Regions from separate parts of the Homo sapiens genome. Here regions 2 and 3 are each reported to be linked to region 1. Evidence: microRNA targets listed by miRTarBase, many of them from high-throughput screens and not tested one by one. Region 1 holds a microRNA gene; each other region holds the end of a gene's coding sequence.

Region 1 (5,259 bases):
AGCTATGGGATTAAAACAAGTCAGCTGGTGGCAGTATTTTCTCTTGTAACTTAGGAAACAGTTAACCTCTCAAAGTACCTTTACATCCAATAACTCAAAAATGTTACTACTATTTGGGCAATATGTAGTTGTGGATAAAATTTACTTTAAAAACACAAGATATAAAGTATGAATAGTTTATCTGTATAGGACATTGAGCATTTCTGGTGTGCTTATCCGCTTAAAGTTTAAATTACCAGCAGAATTTGTTATACTTTGGGGTGCAGATTAACAACCGTTGATTCTCCATAAAAATGTTAGAGTGTAGTGGGTTGGAAGATTACCTCGGTTGGTTGAATGAAGTGTTTTGGAAAATAAAATCATAATGAAATTAGCATGTTATGATTAGTTTCTCCATAAACCAAGATTTGACACAGCACCGCAGAGGTTTTCATTATTTAAGAAAACAAGCACTTAACAAAGCCCTGAATTTACTCTGCGTTGCTATCAAGAAAAGCAAACTTCAAGAGCCAACATTCAAGCATTTTCTGCATCTTAAGATTCAAGATAAGGTTCTTCACCGCCCTTCCCACAATGAGGCGGCTCCATCCTGATGAGATCAGATTAAGTAAGGTTATTCTCAAGGCTAAACCAAACCCAATCAAGGCACATATATTAGATCACTTTTGAATGATAAAAGCATCAAACTCCTGCTGAAGGGTTTGGTTGGTTTAAAGAACTGCCTTATTTGTTTTTCAACTGAGCATCAGAAAACCATAGAAAACTGCGATTACATTATATTCAAAACTACTTATTCTGTACAAATACAGATCAGTTTTCAACGAAAAGTACTAAAACTGACCACTTACTTCCCTCAGTGAAAATAAAATAAAAATACAAGTATCTTGTTTTCCACGCAGACTTCAGGGTATTAGAGCACTGAGTATTTTCATTAGTTATCCAAACTACCTTTTTTCTCTATGCAAAGGTATTTTCCTATTAGGAGTAGTGGCCACTCAGGAATCAAAATGAGTGTTAGTAGATTTTAAACTCAAATCTAGAAACCACTTTCAATTCCTAGTCCTCTTCTCCCATACAAAACCTCAAAGATGTAAGTACCACATAACATTAGAATCAAAGGCCATAAAAACCAAAAAACCAACCCACCACACCAGCAGAATCTGAGCCCCAAGGTTAAACTAAAAAGAAAAAACAAAAAACAAAACCATTCACAGCACACTGTACATAGAATTTATTTGTTTGCCTCATACATTAAAAAATCGGAATAGTGCAATTACCTACAAATAATTTCAATCTTCTCATTCGCGAGTTGCAAAGTTTAAAGAGAAACTTTAAATTGCTTTGGGTTTACGTTTTTAAAGACACACTCAGATTTACTAAGAGAGCATATCAGAAACCAGATCTAAAATGTTAAGGCATAAACTTTAATTATCAGGTCTACTTCTTCTGCCCCTCTAATGCCAGTTCTGCAGATCGCTCACACCACTCCAACCTACAGCTAAAGAATGAAGTAAAACAGGTACACACTAAATTTGGCATTTAACTGCTGAAAGAAGTGTTAGAATTTTTTAGGGTGAAAAAGTTATCTGTATCAATTATCTTACACAATTCCACTCCTTCCTTCAAGAAAAGGAATCCAATGGCTTAGCTCTTTCCCAACCTTTAAAATGCATCGCGGTCCACCCCACTCCCCTCAATTCCTTCTAGGAAAATGTGAAACTAACGGTTTCCGTGGTGGCCGCGCCGGCCGGGCGCCGAGGCTTCGCGGGCTGTCCCCAGGCAGCGCCCCGGAAAACAAAGGGGATTCCCAGCCATTGTCCTCCGCGGCGCTGAGCATCACCAGCACTAGCAAGGCAGTAGCTTGCGCAGTTATCTCCACAGCGGGCAATGTCACAACCCGACCAACAGCACAAACTACTACCTCAGCCAGGGCCATGGTGTCGGGGAGGCACGGGACCACGCGGAGGGCAGCAAAGCGGCTCCGGCGCTCCTCCGTCCTTCCTCGCCGCCGACGTCGGCCCGCCGCCCCTTCTTTTCCTTTGCCTTCCCCCCGCGCCGCGCCCGGAGACCCCGCCCAGCACCCAGCGGCTCGGCTACTCCCGGCGCGCCCCGAGAGCTACGGGGATGAGAGGCGGCGCCGGCGCCCGGGTGATACAGCCGGCGTTCTGTACGTCAGCCACCGCTCTGAAGAGAGAAAAGCGGCGGTGTCCTGCGGAGAGAGCCGCTCCCTCCACTGCCCGAGGGGAGCGCGTCGCCTCAGCCGCTCGAAAGCAGGAAATGGGCGGCAAAAGCGCAGTCAGACACCAACTGGTTCTGGACTGCCCCCGAGAGGCAGCGAGCAGCGCTCCCGCGCTTCGCCCGCTAGGAGCTGCCGCCACGTCCCGAGCTGCGCCGCTCGCGCCCCTCCCTGCTCCGAGTCCCCGGTGGGGGCTGGGCTGCGGCCGAGTCCGGTACCCGGGCCCCCACCCGCGCCGCGCTGTCGAACCCGCCGCCGGCCCGCTCTCGGCGCCGATAATCGCCGGCGGGCATCCCGCAGAGGCTGCCGCCGGCTCCGCCAAACAGCAGCCAAGGCATAGCCGGGAAGTCCCCAGGCCACCCGTTCCCCAGCACCCTTCGGGGAATTCCCGTTCAGCTCTACAGGAGGCGAAAACGGAACAAACGAAAACCCCTTAACAGTGAAACCGGGCCCGGCGATGGCCCGGGTGGCGACTGCGACGACTCGACGCGTGCGGACACAAGACCCGTCTCGCGCTCCGCTGCTCCTGTGCGTCCGGACGAACCTTAGAGATCACTTAAGGAGGCTCGCGCGCTACTCCTCACCACGTGACCGCCCCGCCAGGCCGCCCCCCGCGCCGCCATCTTACATCCGGGACAGAGGCGGCGTCCCCTTTCCCTGCCTTGGCAGGCGTCAGCGTGCTACCAGAAATCAGCCCTGAAAGAGGGGACCCCGATTCCACGTCACCAGAGTGCTGAGGCAGCGGGCGATGCCCTCCATCGGCTCAGCGGGGGGGAGTGGAGTCCCAAACTTTTTTCGGCCTTTGCCCGCAAAGAAGATGGCGGCGCATATCGCCGCCTAAGCGGACACGTTGTACCCTGGCCGTGGTTTGAAGTTTCCGGCACCTCCTTTCCCAACCAGCAAGGACACAACCATACGAGCCCCACCCACGCGGGGTGGCTGCCGTGCTACATTCCGCAGAAAACAGGCGGGAAAGCTGCGGCACAGCCCGCTTTAAACGCAAGCTTTTGGGACTTCTGGTTTTGGCTTTTTCTTTTTAAGCCAAGTTAGGGAGAAGGCTGACTGCCATGGAGCCACTTCTGCTTTTGGCCCAGACAACTTACGGGATTTTTTTTTTCCTCCCATTTAGAGATTTTTTGTAGGAAGTTAACAAATTATTTTAAAGAAGTAGTTAGGGCTTGTCAGATAAAATACAGGACGCCCAGTTAAATTGGAATTTCAGATAACCAGTGTTTTGGCATATGTGTGTTACATATATTTTTAAAATTGTTTATCTGATATTCCAATTTAACTGCACATTCTCAATTTTTAATGACTGTATCTGGCAACCCTATCAGCCTTTACCCCTGAAAATCCAGACTGCTTATGACAAAAGTAAGGAATGGAGGGAAATGAAAAGCATGTTTACCTACAACTTAGAATTGTCTTTGCCCAGACTTTGATCCTTCATGGAGGCCAGAGGGCCGTGGTCTAGAACAAAATTTGGCAGCAACTCATAAAGATATCCTTGTATAATTCCCTTTCTGGCAAAGTAAGATTTTTTTTTTCTTAAGCTATCACGATGTAATTTTGGACAACAGATCCTCTTGGCCAAGAGTTTAATTGCAAATTAAAAATTAAATAACTGGCTTTTTGTTTCTATTCTACATGGTATAGGCGATGGGACCCAAACAATTTCTTAAAGTAGAAGTTTTCAAGTTAAAAATCAGCCTGCCTGACATATTTCATAAGAACATTTTTAGGTGCATATTCAGAAACTATTTCCAATTAAGAATATTTGTGTAAACATAATACATTTGCAGTTAAATGCTTTACCTGACAAAGCATAAACTCACCTATCAATCACTAAGCATAAACTCAAAGCAAAAACTCAATCACACCATAAACTCATCTATCAATCACTTACCAGAAAGTCTGTAGAAACTTCACACCATCCTTCCTTGATAAGCAAAGATTGGACTGCCATGGGAATCAACCCTCACTGCTCATTGACTGCGCAGTGGATCAGATTATTCTGTACCAAAGCAAATGTCCTTTGCCATAATGGCACAGATTTTTAAATGGCCACTAAACACCTGTTTGGTCTATGGTATACAGATTTGTTACAGCAGTAGTTTCCAACTAAATTTAGTCATTATACTACTTTATCACTTACATTCCTTTCCATAATGTTTTTAACAGTGCTAACACCAATATACTCATCATCCACATATAATGTACTGTTACCATCAACTTTTTCTCCCCCCTCCCTGCATATCAGGAATCTTAAGTATCCTTTCTGAATATGACCACCGTTAATCAATTCTTTATCATCACCTCATAGCAAGAAAATTGCAACAGCTTTCTAGCTTAGCTTTCCATACTGTATATATCCTATCCTGCTTATGATTGCAAGTTTATCTTCCTTGGTTTTATAATTTATTCTTAAATCACTCCAGACCCTGCCATCTCAAATCTAAACTACTCTCCTTGGCTTTCAAGGAATTTTATGAAGGGACCCAATCCTTCACAACCAACCTTGTTTCACACAATACACCAAAATGCACTGTTTTCTATTTCACAGATATGCCTTGCTCACATTATCTTGCCTGAAATCCCTCCGTATATCCTTTGAACTCATCCAAAATCTAGGTAGCCATCAAGACTAACTTTAATTTCTATCTTAACCACTGAGCTTTTTCATTTCTTTAAAAAACTTCCTTCTGACTACTAACAGCACTATTAACCTGAACCACAGAAGACTAGGCTAAGGTTCCTATTTTATGATTTCATTTTAATCTGTACTTGTCTTTTACTGTACTTTACATACTTGTTAAAAGGTCTGTATTCCCTATAAAACTGAAAACTCCATGAGGACAGAGACTAACCCAATGCTTAACGCAAAAACAGGGTCTAAACAGTTGTTAGTGATACACCAGTATTTAATTGTATAGTCTTGTATCCAGTATTATTTTATATATGCGGTTTCCTTGACTAGCTGTAATAAGCACTTGAGAGCGCTCCAAATAGCTTCTGTCATACAG
Region 2 (5,129 bases), not on the chromosome of region 1:
TGCATGTCTGCTTATTCGTATTAACACATTCTTAAATTATGAGTCTGCACTTTGAATCTTCTAAATTTAACATAACAAGAATGTGTTGTGGTTTAATATCTTGATGGAGACAACTCATAACCTATTTCAAGACTTCTGCTCAGGACACCTTAAAAAAAAATAGAGATGGTGTCTCGCTATGTTACCCAGGCTGGTCCCGAACTCCTGGGCTCAAGTGATCCTCCCTCCTTGGCCTGCAAAAGTGTCGGGATTACAGGCATGAGCTACCACGCCCAGCCAGGACCTTTTAAATAGAATTTTTAACTTGAGTTTACTAAATTCTAAACCAAGAGAAACATACTCATTACCATTTAGCAATTTACAGTTTAGTATATATTGTTCAGATACGTAAGCATGTAAGAGTGTGTATATATATATATGTGTGTGTGTGTGTGTGTGTGTGTGTGTGTGTGTGTGTGTATTTGGTCTTTTCTAAATAGTAGCCCTGTGGTTTTATGTTTTTGGAATTGCTGTGTTTTTTTAATGCCCTTTTTGCTCTTTCTTCTTCCACAGTGCCATGGAAAGCCATTCACTCCTCAATCCCAACCTGCAGCAAGGTGAAGGAGTCCTCTCCAGCTTCCGAACCACGTGGCAGGAGTTTGTGGAGGATCTGGGCTTCTGGAGAGTATTGCTGTTGATCTTCGTCATTGCTTTGCTGTCTCTTGGCATTGCTTATTATGTGAGTGGGGTGCTACCCTTCGTGGAAAACCAGCCTGAACTGGTGCATTAAAGGAGCTCATGGAAGATGAGGCAATTAATTGCCTGTTTCCTGGCTTCCAATGTTTGTTCTCAGTTTCTCAGAATTTTTCTTAGCGCAAAGCAGTGAGGGCAGTACATGTTCTTTTTGCATTTTTAATTATTGTAATCCTTTTAGATAATGATGTGTTCATTTGAACTAACTACATACTATGATCAAGTATATTGCATCCTAACGCTACCTCTGACTCAACCTGACTTTGTAGGAAAGCCTACACGTAGCCTTGTTTGATAAAAACACGGAAGTGACTAGAGAATGGAAGATAAAGGAAGAAGCTAGGAAGTCCTTGCTATCAAAACCTTATCCTAATATAGGACCAATTGAAGTATTCAAAAAGAAAAACAGTATCTTATATGATTAGTTTTTGTTGGTGGTTTTGTTTTCATTTATTTTTGCAAGAGCCACTTTTTATTTACTTTCTCTAGGGATAAGAGATAAAACTTGAAGTACTTTTTTCAAATCTTGTGTGCAAATTAGTATTGTTAGCATCTATTTGGCTTATTTTAGTATTTTTAAGTCTAGTCACAAACCAAACAAAACTTTTGAAAATGAGCTATATTTTGTTCAAAGATAATTGATTTGATCTTATATTTATTTGTTTTTAGGATAATTTTTGATCTTTTTGTAAACTGCTTTGCTTGTTAATATCTGTGAAAAATAAATGAGTTCATTTTGTTCACTTTCCAATTTTCCCGAGTATCCTAGTCATCAAAGATAACAGTTCATCAGAATTACAGTCAGAAAATCCTTTTTCTACTGAATAGTTAGCAGGGAAAAATAATTCTGATATTTAACTGTCATAATTCTGTAGTGCTATTATAGTGAAAAACTCAGTTCTATAAGCTAGCTGTGTTGTCACAGTTTTATCATAGTTCATAATTATTTCATGTGCAATCCTATTTGGAGGCCCTGTTAGACTTTTAACAATCCCATCCATATCTGTAATTCTCTGATGGCAAGAATGGATGGAGCATTTCTGAGTTAACAGTGCTGGACAGTATCGTACTGGGTGTCATAAACTCTTTATGAATGGTAATATTATGTAAATTGAAATCTGGCCCTCAAACTATATTGCAGCTTTCAGCAGTATGTTTGAAGGCCTCTTTTGTTAATGATTCTGTAATGTATGAATTATGTTCTTGAGTGGTTAAAAAAGAATATGAAGGCTTGATAATTATTTATTGGGTAAAGTCAGGAAATTGTAGTGAAAGAACTAATGGTTTTGTTTTTTGGAATAAAGGCACCTAAGCTATTGCTAATTGAATTGCTGCTAGAATTAGAAATTATGCTTTAGAATAGAATTGGTATTTCTGTGATTCTTTTTGCTTCTTGGTATTTTCTCTTGTATCTATGTATCTAGTATTGAGGCTTGCTCTTTCATGTGGCTTTATCCTCTCTTTAATAGCTGTTGTAAAATTCCTGAGTAACTGGCTGCTTCAGGATCAGCTTGCAGAGTCTTGCTTTTAGGTTAGATACAAACAAAGTAAATCATAGTTGGTGTAAATCCAGCAAAAAACAGCTGGCTTTGGAATGGAGAACACTACAATTCAAATTTGAAGTATATTCAGAAGAAAACTTTGGAATTAGCTTTACATTTGTTTGTAAATCTAAACAAATATGCAAAATTGGTCAAAATGTAAGTATATAGCATTTTTAAAGATTAATGGTTCCTTTTATGTGCTGATTTCTTTGTATTCTGTTCTCTGCATTCATCATTCAGGAATACCACCAATAAATGTATTTATATATCCCTTAATCACGATTTCTCTTTTTTTTTTTTTTTTTTAGTGTATTATAGTTTTAATTTGGGGATTTTGTAATGGATTGCAATTAGCTGCTTTTTAAAACACAGCTTTTTTTCAAACCTAATGTATTAGGTATATTGAGTTTCATATATGTTTGCCTTATAAATACTGTGAAATTAATTTGAGTGAATTGCTCGTAGATTTAAGGGTGATGATCATAACTACCACAATTAAGCCCCTCCCAATTATGCAAGTTTTTAGCATGCAAGTTTTACCCTACGCCCCCTTGAGCACTACATGACCCCAGTTTATAAGATGAGAAAATGGACACAGGGATGGCTAAGTAACTTGTCCAAGGTCAAACAGGTAGGACCTGGTGGAAGAGGGATTCCAGATTGAGGCTCCAGCCCCAATTATGCTTGTGCTTTCCTCCTGTCCCGCTGTCTTTCATGAATCTGGAAATGGAACCATATTTATCCAGAACCTCGCCTGATACCATTTCAGCAGGACATTACTAAATTTTCCACTCGTGGTCCTATATACTTACTTTTTTTCCTTTCTTACACATCTTCCCAGTGGTAGAAGCTTTAATATTCAAGCTCCAACCCTGGCTTGTCAGAAAGTCTTCCATAGTTAACCGTACTTGACTGCCTCCTTCCCAACCCCTCCTTTCCCCACCACTTACCACACTCAGTTTTATTACTTGTATTTTGCATTCCTTGATCCGTTTCTCTGTAAACATGATTTTCTTTCTAACTTGTTTAATTGTAAGCTTCATGAGAGCAGGGACTTAGTCTATTTTTATAACCCCATCTGTCTACAGAGCATCCTGTAGAGCTCTTGGTACACAAATACTTATAGCATTGCTTTTATACCTGTAGCTATATTTTTTCTTTTCAGGTTGAATAGCTCTTTGCCTTTTATGCATCCCCCGCAACAAGCTGCAGGTGTGAGCTGTGCTTGGTCCTCCTTCCACAGTGCGCCTGTAGCTTCATGAACGAACTATACAGGCTGGCAGTGTGGAGCCCCCTCACCTGTGGAGCATGCAGGCTTCCGATCAGCAGCACCTGCCACAGGTTTACCACTTCGTGTAGAAGCCCAGGAACAATATTCACCTGCCACTGCTGCTGTTTTGGTTTCTATGTTTTTATTTCAAAACCAGGCCTCAGTCTTTGACTTGTGAAATTGTTTATGCATGTATCAAAGTGCTTTCAGCTGCAGGAACCAAAATCCGAATTCAAAACGGCTTACCCCATAGGAAATGTATTTGTTTATGTAACTGAAAGTCCAGTTACATAAAGCCCGTTTACATAAAAAGGTAGGGTTGACCCCAAGGGTGACATCATCCAGAATCTTTAGCCCAGTTCCCTTGTGCTCTTGCCCTGCCCTCCTTGTTGGCTGCTTCCTCCAGCTGGTTCTGCAATGAGTACAGAATTTTTAGACATCACATCCATTTATCACCACATAGAGAAGAGACCGTCTTTCCTGTGACTCCCTCGTAGGAAACTTTGATGCAAACAAGCTGTTTCATTGGCTGACATGATATCATGTACCCCATTCTCAAACCAACCAGTACCCTTACACAGGTTGACTTAGGCCTGGATTGATGAACCAGTCATTGGCAGGGGTGGGGTTGGTAGAATTCATATGTTGAGCTTGGACTAATGGTTTTAGAAGTGATTAGGGCCACTCCTGGCAATCAGTGGGCAGGGACCATAGTTGTTTTACATCCCACAGTGCATGGGACAGTTTAGTCTAACAAAGGATTGTTCTAAATCCCACATGATTCTTGAATGTTCTGCTGGACATTCGTGTGTTTAGAAAACAAACAATTTTAGATATCTGAACCTAAAACCCAACCATTTCACATTTTAAAACAAGGTATTATTTGGTATAGTTTTATTTTTTTATTTTATTTATTTTTTTTTTTTGAGACAGAGTCTCGCTCTGTCGCCCAGGCTGGAGTGCAGTGGTGCAATCTTGGCTCACTGCAAGCTCTGCCTCCCGGGTTCACGCCATTCTCCTGCCTCAGCCTCCTGAGTAGCTGGGATTACAGGGGCGTGCCACCACGCCCAGCTAATTTTTTGTATTTTTTAGCAGAGACGGGGTTTCACCATGTTAGCCAGGATGGTCTCGATCTCCTGACCTCGTGATCCACCCGCCTCGGCCTCCCAAAGTGCTGGGATTACAGGCGTGAGCCACCCCACCCGGCCTGGTATATAGTTTTAATGTATCATGAATTTTCCAAGAATACAACCACGAGATAATTAAGGGAAGATTCGACTTCATTTTGTTCAAAACTTTATCAAGAATTGCACCGCTTTTCAAAAATCTTGTTATTGACAGCAGTGCTACTTATAATTAAGTCATCAACATAATTCTATTACAGATAGTAATGACTTCGTTGTTTCTTCTAATGTAGCTGGGCCTGAGCATTTACATATTGAAATATACATTTTATTATAAATTTCTTTCCCTTTATTTTGTGTTTCTATTACATAATTTATGTGAAATCATTTTATTGATTTTGACAGTTGTTAACTCCTACTTATCTGGGAGCCATTCTATAGCTTAGCTTATTTAATCTT
Region 3 (5,129 bases), not on the chromosome of region 1:
CTGTTCTTTTTAAACAGCTCCCTGAAGTCTATGTAGTTTGTAATGCAGGCTTCCAAGGCCTGAGAGGAGCGCCTAGTGTATTTCCCCTTCGGTCCCAGTGGGTGGGAGTGTCGAAGTCCAGACAGGACTTGCATTCTGGCATCATCTCAGGAGCCCCTGAGTCCCTTGCCACTCGCCTTGCAGACTGTGGTCCAGTATGTCAGGACTGGGGCTCAGGAATCTGCAGGGACAGGTGCCCAGGAGATTCTGGCCCTGGCGTGGGGAAGCATCTATAGAGGAAGTTGAGCCTCAGCTTTGATTCAGGTCCTAACCTGGGGCTGTGGACAGGGCACTCACCTCTCAGCCTCAGGGTCCTCACTGCAGAGCTAGAGTCAGACATCCCATCTGTAGGTCTGTGAAGGCTGGAGGTAAAGTGCATGAACAGGTGGCCAGCAGGGTGCTGGGCACGTGGTTGATTTTTGATAGGTGCCACTTAAAATTCCTCCTGACAGTGCCGCTGGCAGCTGGAGGAAGTAGAAGCTTGGTACTTTGTGGGACACTGACCACTCTGACTGGACTTTCCTTTGGCAGAGTCTTTGGATTTGTGGCCCGGAAGCAGGGCAGTGCCACGGATAATGTGTGCCACCTGTTTGCAGAGCATGACCCTGAGCAGCCTGCCAGTGCCATTGTCAACTTCGTATCAAAGGTCATGATTGGTTCCCCAAAGAAGGTCTGAGAACTCCCCTCCCTCCCTGGACCCACCGATGCCTCTCGAAGCCCTGGAGACAGCCGTTGGGTGAGGGTGGGGCCCCCACTTTTTACCAAACTAGTAAACCTGACATTCCAGGCCCATGAGGGGAAAGAGGATCTTCCAGCTCTGCAAAAACAAGAACAAACAACATCACCGTGAATTGGCCTTTCCTGAAAGTGACTTATCTGACACATCTCTGTAGCCACATGCTTTTTGGGTAGAAGAAGCTGGGCATGGGTGCACCCCACCCCCTAGGGTCCCCATGGGAAAGGGACATGCAAGGAAACAGCACAGAACACGAGGTGGTCCCCATGTCCCTGGCACACTAGCATTCCGGGGGATGAGGAATCCCCAGCCCTTGAGGCAGAGGTGCCGAGTGACTGCCATGCTTCGCCCGTCCGCATGGGCGCTTCTGTCCAGCTGCACCCGAGGCCGGGGGTTTCCCTCACCTCGGTCTTCCCAAGATGGAGATGCTAACGAAACTGAGAAGGGGGCGTATGTTTGACGAAGGTTTGTGCAAGTCAGGCCCTTCTGGAACACAGCAGGGCCTACAACGAGGGGCCTTTGCGATGGGCTGTGAGGATGGGGGTGGTGGGAAGAATTGGCCACGTTGGAGACCCCATGCCACCCCACCATGGTGAGTGCTCTGTGCCTCCTGCTCACCTGTGGTGAGCTGGGCGAGCTGGGCGAGCTGGGCGAGCTGGGCTGGGGAGAGCCTGTGAGGACCGAGAGGAGAAATGAGAAGAAGGAACAAAAATATTATTTCTATGTAATTTATATTTTACTTATGCCAAATTATTTATGATAATTTGCCATTGCTATACTGTACCAGTGTCAAATGCTGCAGCCTGCCAAGCTGTGATTTTGTGAGGCTTGTCCCTATGTAGGATGCACCGCAGGCCCCTGGCCACTGAAAGAGTGTGCAGTGGACTGTGGGTCTCCCATATGCGGTGCCGCCCAAAGGTGGCTTTGCCTCAAGCAACCTACCCTGATGTTTTACTCATTGGAATGTTTTTCCCCGATTGTGGATGACTTCTTTTCTGATGGAGAGAGTCCAGGAGGGATGGAAAACTCCTGGATTTAAGCTCAGCATCCCCCACATGGGCTTTTCGATCATCTTCAGGCCTGAAGCTGCACGACCTGAAGTTCGCCTGCATTTATCAGCCCTCTTTGTGCTGCTCCTTGCCACCTTGGGGTTCCTGCTGGGGACCATGTGTGGTTGTGGCATGTGTGAGCAGAAGGGAGGATGAGGAAAAAGAGAAGAAACCCCGGTACTGACAAGCTGTTTTTGAGTGCCACTGTTTGCCATCATCTAAGCCACTGAATCAAGTGTATTTCAGGCTTATTTCAACATTCCAATGCCCTGGTTTTCCTGCTTGAATCTGTTCGTGGTCAAAGGTTTGGGGGAATTTGTGACCCTGGAACATCCCCAGAGTGAAAGATGGAGCTGGGCCACATCAGAATAAGGCCTTGGCCCCATCCTCTCACAGCCTAGGTGCTCTGCAGGCATGCTGACTGTCCTGATTGCGATCCAGCCCGAAATTCCCTCCTCTGCTTTCAAAAGTCAAATCCCCCATTCTTAGGCCACACTGGTGTCACAAGCTCCTGTCAGGGAGCTGGGGTTTGGGAATGTGCTTTGTGAACTCTGCTTTAAAGTGAGGGGCCGAGGAAAACTTAGAAACAGGCAGAGTTGGAAGCAGCCAAATCACAGTGGGTGTTGTGTGTGTGTGCGTGTGTGCATGCGTGCGTGTATGCGTGTGTGAAAGCAGGTGGACCATTCCACTTTTTAGCTCCTATTGATGCACCAAACCAAGTGCCTCATTTCTGTGCCAAATGTTTGCCTTGGTCGTTGTGGACCTCCTTCTCTAACTTGCGGTGGCATGACTGTCAGGAGGTGCTGGCATTTTCAGCAGATCCTCATGTGTTGACCCTGATGTCTTTAGCAGAGGCCTCTAGCATCTCGGTTTTTCATCCACTGCAGGAATGTGGCCACAGGGAGCAGAGGTTTGTACTTTCCCCAAGAGGTCCTCATCCTGAGACGGTCTCTACCCATGTTTAACCCAAAGAGTGCAGGCCAGGTTCCTTATCCTTCTGATGAAGGATGAGAGAGCTCATTTAGAAGTCAGAGCAAACTAGGGTCTCAGTATTGAGAAACGCAGCCTGCCAGGGAATCACAGAGACATCGGGGTGCCCGCGATGGCCCTCATGAAGCCATGCCTCGACGGCATTCAGGAAGCCCTGCAAACGTGCTTTTTGAACTCATTGGCCAGGTGTGATTTTTACACAAGGTAAACGTGGTCAAGGGCATCGGGGAATTTGCTCCAAGCAGATAGCTCCCTCTGAGGAACCAAAGGAAGCAAGTTTCCACGATTTCTGAAGAGCTGGTATAGGAAGTTTCTTTCTTCCTTTTGTGTTACATGTGCATTAAACAGAACAAGCTGTGTGTCATCACAGATTGTACTGTGGGCTCAGAAACCGTGAGAGAGCCCCCACCGTGGACACCGGCTCTAGGGCCACAGGAAAAGGAACGTTTCCAGGCATTTTGTCTCCAGGGCTCCCGCTGGACAGGCACGTACTGCCCTGGGGAGTAAATGCGGAGAGTTCACGAACTGTGCCCAACGCATGTTATAGCCAGGGTCCTACTAACTACTCAGTAAAAGAACGTATTGTTGTATTCCTCCAGTGTTAAGCTATAGCCATGTTAAAAGTCACTGTGCATTTATTCTCAGCATCAAATACCTTGTAACGTCTTCTCTGCCTTGTTAGTGCATATTTTTACTTTTCTGATACTGTAAAGAATATATCCAGTATGTAAATGAATGTTCTATAAATCTTTTGTATAGTCATTTTCTCTGCTCCTTAAATATCATCTCTATTCAGAGTATAATAAAATTATGAACTTGGTAAGCCTCCGTGAGACGGTATTTGTGTACCCTGAAGTATGTTTGTGTGTGTTTGCACATGTGTGTATGCGTGTGCATGTGTGCACTTTTGTGTATGTGTCTCTGCAAATGTGTGCATGTGCTTGCACAGATGTATCTTTGTCCACATGTGTCTGTGCGTCTGCGTGTGTGCTCGTTCATGAATGTGTGTCTGTGTGTTTACAAATCAGTGGATTCAGTTATAAAATCACAAATGTTTTGCTGTCAGGAATATATTAAGATTTCTGCCCAGAGACCTTTGAAATGTTATATTCAAAGATCTTTGAAGATTAACCACAATGCAGTGTTGATAATGGGTCCTGACATGTTTTCGATGTTGCTATGAATACCCCTACACACACACTGGCTGCAGAAACACACCCCTGAAGTGGGCCAGCTCCTGAAGGACCTCCCAGTGTCTATTGAAGTGGGCACTAAAAGTGAATATTGAGACTGGTGGATTCACTTACACATCAACAGATGCTGGAGACAGCCAGTGTCACCTGCCTCTTCTGTTCCCCCAGCCAAGGCTCCTCCCTCCCCACCTTAAGGGAGTTTGCCCTTTTCTACGGACTCTGCCCTCTTGGGCCTGTCCCCTCCCTCCTGAGTCAGGTGATGGGACACAGGACCCCATCTAACCTCACTCCCTCAGATCCAAACCAGAAAAGAAGCAATGCTTTGGGCTCATTTGGTTATGGACAGATAAAGATGGCAGTTAGCTGCCACCCTGTGCACAGTTTTCTGCCTGCGTGGTCAGCCCCCAGAGACTGTAGCTTTCCACTCTGAGGAGACACAGAGATATTTCACCCCAGCTATGTTGGGAGAGTGAACTTGAAATGGTCCCGGTACTACTGCTTTGGAGCAGAAGAGAGGGCAGGTGGTGGCAGATTAAATCTTGTCCAACAGGAAGCTCCCATTGAGTCTTTGAAGCCAGTCATTGCCCAGACCTTTGACCAATGTCACAAGGTGGAAAGGTGGACAGGGCATTGATTTCACTGCGGCTTAGGGAGTGTGCTTCCCAAGAACACCATACTTGTCACAATTACTGGGCTCCGTACAGTGTGCACATGTGCCTAGGTCCCCGACCAGAGCCAGCCCTGGGGACTGTTGGAGAGACCCAGTGGCCATGAGACCTCAGCTGGACAGGCCCCTGCCACTTGCTGCAGGAGGATGTTATGGGTCCCCCATTCATCTCTCAGCAATCTGTTACCTAATGAGTACCTGGGCCTTACCTACTGGGGTCGTCCTTCTATTAATGTGGTGGGCACCTTGGTCCGTCCACTTGGGGGGTCATTGATCTATTGTGTAATGAACACTTTGGATCTGCCCACTGGAGGACAGTAGGTCTGTAGCTCAGTTGGGCTTCTGTGTCTCATCCTGTCCCCAGGGAGGTAGGTTGCCTGCCTGATGGCTTTGGGGATCACACTTCACAGACCAGGGGCAGTTGGGCTGGTCTCAGAGGATGAATTGGAGTTTTC

Evidence for each region. The annotated mature microRNA hsa-let-7i-5p reads UGAGGUAGUAGUUUGUGCUGUU and lies in region 1 at 1,904-1,925, opposite strand. An mRNA with a match to its seed (bases 2 to 7 or 8) in the 3' UTR can be bound and repressed. Matches are read on the target gene's strand: a 7mer-m8 pairs with bases 2 to 8, a 7mer-A1 pairs with bases 2 to 7 and ends in A, and an 8mer does both.
Region 2: the mRNA of ANKRD46 is a reported target of hsa-let-7i-5p. Seed matches in the 3' UTR shown: 7mer-m8 at 974-980.
Region 3: miRTarBase lists TNS3 as a target of hsa-let-7i-5p. The part of its 3' UTR that is shown has no 7-base or 8-base seed match.

The regions. Positions count from the first base shown.
Region 1 is chr12:62,600,357-62,605,615 of GRCh38, reverse strand. MIRLET7I (microRNA let-7i) reads right to left here and starts at 1,930; the gene lies at 1,847-1,930. It overlaps LINC01465 (long intergenic non-protein coding RNA 1465), which reads left to right and starts at 2,182. Exons shown (of 1, transcript NR_121682.1): 1 at 2,182-3,865. MIRLET7IHG (MIRLET7I host gene) reads right to left here and starts at 2,873. Exons shown (of 2, transcript NR_186001.1): 1 at 2,781-2,873. It overlaps MON2 (MON2 regulator of endosome-to-Golgi trafficking), which reads right to left. Exons shown (of 35, transcript NM_015026.3): 35 at 5,140-5,259. RefSeq lists enhancers at 1,490-2,011, 2,012-2,533, 2,640-2,829, 2,910-3,019, 2,534-3,055 and 1 more and silencers at 1,860-2,159, 2,250-2,559.
Region 2 is chr8:100,518,195-100,523,323 of GRCh38, reverse strand. It overlaps ANKRD46 (ankyrin repeat domain 46), which reads left to right. Exons shown (of 5, transcript NM_001270377.2): 5 at 553-2,552. The coding sequence ends at 769. Among named protein-coding and RNA genes, the nearest start is that of ANKRD46, 39 kb to the left of the region's middle.
Region 3 is chr7:47,273,662-47,278,790 of GRCh38, reverse strand. It overlaps TNS3 (tensin 3), which reads left to right. Exons shown (of 31, transcript NM_022748.12): 31 at 571-3,637. The coding sequence ends at 715. Among named protein-coding and RNA genes, the nearest start is that of SNORD151, 190 kb to the left of the region's middle.